2 linked regions of the Homo sapiens genome follow. The protein of the gene in region 2 purifies or fractionates together with the protein of the main gene of each other region. This does not show direct contact. Each region holds a gene or a part of one and is shown on either strand. Other genes may lie near its edges.

The links. The genes of interacting proteins can lie anywhere in the genome.
Region 1: the proteins of METTL2B (region 2) and IFT81 purify together in Homo sapiens (pull-down; one large-scale study listed by IntAct). This does not show direct contact.

The regions. Positions count from the first base shown.
Region 1 is NC_000012.12:110,127,354-110,130,856, reverse strand, and holds part of IFT81 (intraflagellar transport protein 81 homolog), read right to left. Parts: intron 3,498-3,503; 5' UTR 3,477-3,497; coding exon 3,333-3,476; intron 2,812-3,332; coding exon 2,708-2,811; intron 1,908-2,707; coding exon 1,727-1,907; intron 1-1,726. UniProt on the Homo sapiens protein: Component of the intraflagellar transport (IFT) complex B: together with IFT74, forms a tubulin-binding module that specifically mediates transport of tubulin within the cilium. Binds tubulin via its CH (calponin-homology)-like region.
Region 2 is NC_000007.14:128,500,746-128,503,925, reverse strand, and holds part of METTL2B (tRNA N(3)-cytidine methyltransferase METTL2B), read right to left. Parts: intron 3,024-3,180; coding exon 2,958-3,023; intron 2,165-2,957; coding exon 2,010-2,164; 3' UTR 1-2,009. UniProt on the Homo sapiens protein: S-adenosyl-L-methionine-dependent methyltransferase that mediates N(3)-methylcytidine modification of residue 32 of the tRNA anticodon loop of tRNA(Thr)(UGU) and tRNA(Arg)(CCU).

The DNA of each region.
Region 1 (3,503 bases), on a different chromosome or scaffold from region 2:
GTGTAAATCATTATATATTGTAAATCATTGTGTGTGTGTATATCTCTTTCTCATTTTATATATATATGTATATGTATATACATATATATAGAGAGAGATACCTGTCAGATATGCTTCAAGAACAAGTATGTCTTTATTACCATTAATTCTTTCATCAACTAGCTGAGCATATTTAGCAAAGACTTAATCAGGTCGTGCACCGTGGCTCACGCCTGTAATCCCAGCACTTTGGAACCCGAGGTGGGCAGATCATGAGGTCAGGGGTTCGAGACCAGCCTGGCCAACATCATGAAACCCCATCTCTGCTAAAAATACAAAAATTAGCTGGGTGTGGTGGTGGGCACCTGTAATCCCAGCTACTAAGGAGGCTGAGGCAGGAGAATCACTTGAACCCAGGAGGCGGAGGTTGCAGTGAGCCGAGATTGCACCACTGCACTCCATCCAGCCTGGGCAACAGAGCAAGACTCTGTCTCGGAAAAAAAAAAAAAAAAGACTTAATCAACTTCCTCTAGATAAATTAATTTTTATCAGATTTATCGATGGTGGGAGCCTAGGAAGGAGAAAGTACACATTTACACTTCTCTATTTCCCACATTGTGTAAAATATTCAAAGGTAAGGACAGGTGGTCTCATTCTGCTGTGCTTCTCCCATGGCATCTACTGTGACATCTGACATAATTATTTGCATAAATACTGTCTTAAGAGATCAATATTGACTCTATTTTGAGTTACTGCCATGTCTACCCCAAATAGCAAAATATATGGATAAAAATAAAAATATTCAGTTGGTTACTGCGATTCAATCCAAATATTGAGCTAACATTAGAAGTGACTATACAAAATCTGGAAGAAAATAAAGATGGATAAGACATGGCACCTGTCTCTATGGGCCTCAGAATTTATTGGGAAAGACAGATTGACAAACTATTCACAACAATTTGGCACAAATCAGTCTATGTAAGTGCTATGGAATAAAAGTGTGAAACACTAAACAGAAGCACTTTTTAAAAAAAAAAAAAAATCAAAGTCCTTTTAAATCTGAGTCTAGTTTCTTTCTCTCCACAGTCTTTGACCAGCAATGTGCTTAGGGATCTCAGGATCAGAAGCCAGACCAGCCAGAATCCTCAGTACTCAAGAGCTTTAAGACCTTATGCCAGAGCCCAATGTTACTCCAAAACCTTGGCAAGAAAGGTGCACTGAGATTTCAAACTCCGGAATCTATCTCTACCCTTTGTCTGATTGGGAAGTGCTTTGAGACTGCAAGCCTAGGTTCTTTGCCTGCTTCTTTCCAGGACCTCACATGTCCCAATTTGCCTGGGATAGTGTCAATTTAAACCATTTGTCTTGGTGTTTAAATGTTATGATAGTCTGTTTCTCTCAAATTTGGATAAAAAACTATGTAGTCACCTTACTGATGAACAAAGTGCTGTGCAGACTTAACCCAGGATTCTATTTACCCACAATTGCTAAGTAATAAATTATTCTAAAATCTTAGTATCAGGTTTTTTTTTTTTCTATTCACATACTCCTATCACTAAAACAGTATTTGTGTGCAAAAGCCATTATCTTGAGATGTGGCCATAGTTGAACATTAGCTGATACAGTTTTATCTTCTTGTGCCACTTGGAACTACAAAGACAGCAAATAAAAAAAGAGTAACATGTATTTGAATATATACACCTTGAAATCCATTACAGTTTCAATGTACCATTTATGTATTGTTTACCTGTTTATTGGTGTCAGCCACAGTTTCATCCTGAAGAAACTCACTTGGTACCTCAAGTTTTATTAAAAAACGAGCTAAATATGCTCTTTTCTTCAGTTCATTAGTCCTCTGAAGAAGCCAGTGGAGCACTGGGTAAATTACAGGTTTACTTCCAATCACCAAACCCTGACGAAAAGTACTCCTAAGAGAGAAACACACATACACAAACACACACGCACTTAACGGTAAACTTTGAAGAGAGACAGCATTTTCTCAAAATCTGATTTACAATGTCCAAATTGCTTTCTGTAACTTTTTAAAAAAGATAAACCCAAGGAATCTTTTTTTTTTTTTTTTTTTTTTTTGAGACAGGGTCTCACTTTATTGCCCAGGCTTGAGCACAACGCAGCTCACCAAAGCCTTAACCTCCTGGCTCAGGTGAACCTCCCACCTTAGCCTCCCAAGTAGCTGGGACTAGAGGCACCAACCACCATGCCCAGCTGATTTTTTGTTGTTGTATTTTTTGTAGAGGCAGCGTTTCGCCATGTTGCCCTGGCTGGTCTCAAACTCCTGAGCTCAAGTGATCCTCTCACCTTGGCATCTCAAAGTGCTAGGATTACAGGTGTGAGCTACCATGCCTGGCCCCAAGGCTATTCTAAAGTCAGTCTGTACATTAGTTAGAAAATTAGAAAAATTTGGCCCTCAATATATCATTGGCATATCCAAGGAAGTTGTGTTTAAGCTGTTTTTATCTAGGATGGCAGATAAAGGATAAAATGGTATAGTGGATTTACCAGACAGTTTGATTAAGGCAAAGAACTGACCCTCTTAAGACTTCTGAGTTTGTTTATAGAAGGTTTAAGATTATTTTGAAACTCAGTGATGTTCTCAGGCCATCAAATGAGGGAAACCAGGTATTACCTACAAAGATTGATTGCAGTATATGAAGGTTTGGATATTAAAGCATAATTTTAAAAACTCAATACGTGATCAGATTCTTACATATCTGTGGCATTTCCTGAAGGTTTGTACTTAAGAATACCAAGAAGGCTCAACATTCGTTTGGCTGTCTGCTCTGGCATCTCCTCTCTGATATCCACAAGTTGCTAACAAAGAAATTGAAAAAAACATGTTATTGTTGTATATGTAACAAAGGACAATATTTAAACTCACTGACAAAATTGTTCTGCTAGAGCTTAACAGCACAATGGTCTCTTCATAAAACAGATTAAGGATGGAGGCCCCCAGATTCCAAGTGAGGGTACACCCAAGTCAGATCAAGATTCACATTAAGAATGTTAAGCTTCAAAAAAAGTATCCAGTGGAATGGACCAGTGTATGAGAGACATGAACTAACTTGCAATACAATAAAACCTTTTGTAAAAGAATTTTCATTCCCTAACCAAACCTATTTATGTCTGGAAGTGGATAAATAATTTTGAAATAAGGTACCAATAGATAATTTATTTTTGAGCTAGCAGAGAAATGTTATGCATTATTTACTATTACTTTACAGACATGGAAAATAAAGCTCAGAGAGGTTAAATAATGTGCCCAAGACTCACAGCTATTTAGAGGGAGAAATTGGCTTTCTGCTACCCATCAAAAAGAAAGAGAAAACTCTTACCTTTGGGTCAATCTCAGCCAGAACATCACTGAGAACTTGTAATAGTTGCATTGGCTCCAAGGAATCAAACGTGATTAAATTATAGTTCTTCCTAAAGGGCTCCTTATTGAGACTGTCCATAATGAATTTAATTTGATCACTCATAATTAGGTCTTATAATTTTAACTAAAG
Region 2 (3,180 bases):
CCCAGGTTCAAGCAATTCTCCTACCTCAGCCTCCTGAGTAGCTGGGATTACAGGCGCCCACAACCATGCCGGGCTGATTTTTTATTTTTTAGTGGAGACGGGGTTTCACTATGTTAGCCGGGCTGGACTGGAACTCCTGACCTCAAGTGATCTGCCCACCTCAGCCTCCCAAAGTGCTGGGATTATAGGCGTGAGCCGCCATGCCTGGTCGAAAAGTCCTTACTTTCTAAAATTAAGGATATATCCTATAACTGCATGGATCAAGACAGAAATATGTAAAAATAATTGAAAAAATGCAGAACATAAAAAAAAAGGATCTAACAATTAGCTAGGCATGATGGTGCCCACCTGCAGTCCTAGCTACTCAGGAGGCTGAGGTGGAGCGATGGCTCAAGCCAGAAGTTCGAGGTGATAATGAGCTATCATTGCACCACTGAACTCCAGCCTGGGCAACAAAGTGAGAGCCCTGTCTCCTAAAAAAAAAAAAAAAAAGCATCTAACACTGACAGTGATCACATTCAGAAGTGAAGTGATGATGTGGTTAAAATTAAGAAGTTCTCTCAATTCCTTTTGTGTCAAACACTTAAGGGTGCAGTAAAAAAAGATAATTTTGCAAAAAGTGAAAATTCTTTTCTTTTATTTTTTTGAGACAGAGTCTTCCTCTGTTGCCCAGGCTGGAATGCAGTGACATGATCTCGGCTCACTGCAACCTCTGCCTCCCAGGTTCAAACGATTCTCCTGCCTTAGCCTCCCGAGTAGCTGGGACTACAGGGGACTACAGGCGCATGCCACCATGCCCAGCTATTTTTTTTGGTATTTTTAGTGGAGACGAGGTTTCACCGTGTTAGCCAGGATGGTCTCGATCTCCTGACCTCGTGATCCACCTGCCTCAGCCTCCCAAAGTGTTGGGATTACAGGCATGAGCTACCGCACCCAGCCAAATTCTTTTAATTCTTTAGACATAGGTTAGAGGGGGAACAGTGCTTAAAATTCCATGGAACTAAGATTTTTTTTATTTTTATTTTTTTGAGACAGAGTCTTGCTTTGTTGCCCAGGCTGGAGTACAGTGGCGCAATCTCAGCTCACTGCAACCTCTGCCTCCTGGGTTCAAGTGATTCTCCTGCCTCAGCCTCCCGAGTAGCTGGATTACAGGCACCCACCAACACACCCAGCTAATTTTTTTATCTTTAGTAGAGACGGGGTTTCACCATGTTGGCCACGCTGGTCTCGAACTCCTGACCTCAGGTGATCTGCCCGCCTCGGCCTCCCAAAGTGCTGGGATTACAGGTGTGAGCCACCGTGCCTGGCGGAACTAAGATTAAAGCAAAGACCACGATCAATTACTTAACAAGAACACCACATTTTGATGCTGTCTACAGGGTCATTTTTTTCTTGTCAGGAAAATATCTGATCTGATTCTTCCCAGCTTGCTTCCCCTACAACTTAATAAGCCCTTCACTAACCCCTGTATGTATTAACTGCAATTGCCTAGCCCGGCATTTACACTCTCAAAAGATTTAACGCAATTACAATCAAAAAACACTTGTCATATATAACACTTTTTCACATGGAAATAAATGGTGGTTTAAGGTTTACAATTCCTTTGAATAAAATTTCAGTTATTAGTTACAAAATGCTAAGACAGATTGAGGTCTCAAAGAAAGAACTTGAGAAAATTATGTTTTAAAGGACTTCACAAATATGAAGCATAATTGTTAGAATCCTGATACAAAGTAACTTTTCCTAGGTTTAAGGTTCAAGTCTGAATTCTTGAATTGTCCAGCATCAACGAGACCTCATTTATATTCTTTTTATTTTATCATTACTTTCAGATTCAGGGTCTCTCGCTATTTTGCCCAGGCTGGACTCCTGGGCTCAATGGATCCTCCCTGCCTCAGCCTCCTGAGTGGCTGGGATTACAGGCATGCACCATGCCCGGTGCTACAAATTTTTTTTTAAAAAAGCTCGGAAACACAACGGGCTTGCATCGTGTTGGCAGCAGGTGCCTCTTAGCTGGTGCTGGACAGAAGGGGCTTGCAGTATTTGCACTGAATCCAAACCCGGTACATTGTCAGTTGCTTCCCTCGGTTCACCTGCAGTCGGCGGTCCACCAGATTCTGAACTTTTTCCAGTCCAGCAGTGGTGAAAAGCGTGTCCAGTTCCTCTAGTGTGGAAAATAAAAGATGTTTATGCATTTTCCCCTCAAGAAAAGGCATTTTTATCTACTAAGTCCTTGTTAAATGGGGCTCTGGGAAGTTGCTGTCGTGTTTTTTACATGGCCATTTGGTTATAAATGCAGTGGTGGCTTGGTAACAACAAGTTCATGTTTAGGTAGGGGAAGCCACTGTGTATAGGCCGCGGTTTTTTCTTTTTTAAAAACCTTTGGTTTATATTTGGCCTTTAGGCTCTATGAACACCTTAAAATTTATGCAAAACTATCTACGTATGTCAAAGCAATTGCTTTAGGAAAGAGGTTTCATCATCTTAACCAAAGGCTCAAAGAAGGTGACCCTAAAAAGGGCCCAGGAACAGAAGGCCCAAGTGAAGGATGAAGCCTGTGGATGGGCCAGTTGCAGAGGAGAGCAGTTCCCGGCACCCCTAGAACCCAGGGTTCACCCTGACCCAGGCACACCAAAGCACAACCCCGTGTAGAGGGTGAGACAGGCTGGACTGGAGGTGAGCCTTGCAGAGTGGGCAGGCTTCCCATTTTGGACAGTGGCAGACAGGGAGAGCAGAGCAGGACTGAAGGCATGGACAAGCCAGGGCTGCCTGGGGGCCCGAGTGGCTGGCTGCCATGGGTAGCCTAGCCCAGGGTGGAAGAGGGTGTGAGCAGCGGGGAACCGAAGGAAACAGCCTGCCTAAAAGGCAGGAGGGGCCAGATAGTTTTCCTTCTGAATGTGCCTTGAAGACCATCTGGTACTGGGGACTTTTAGCGTAAAAAGATGAGTGTTTCATACCTTGTGTGAAGAAGTAAACTCTGGTTCCATCACCTCTCACATAGAAATTTCCAGATAGACACTGACCTGCAGAGTGATGTATTAAAAATCAGAGACACTTTAAAGTGTCTCTTTGACTTGCACTGCTAAGGAATGTTAACTGAGAGGCCAGTTTGTTGGGTGGAGAGCACTCCTGCCTCAGTGCTTCGGGAAGAGCAGCTCAACGGGAGTAAGTCACAATGTC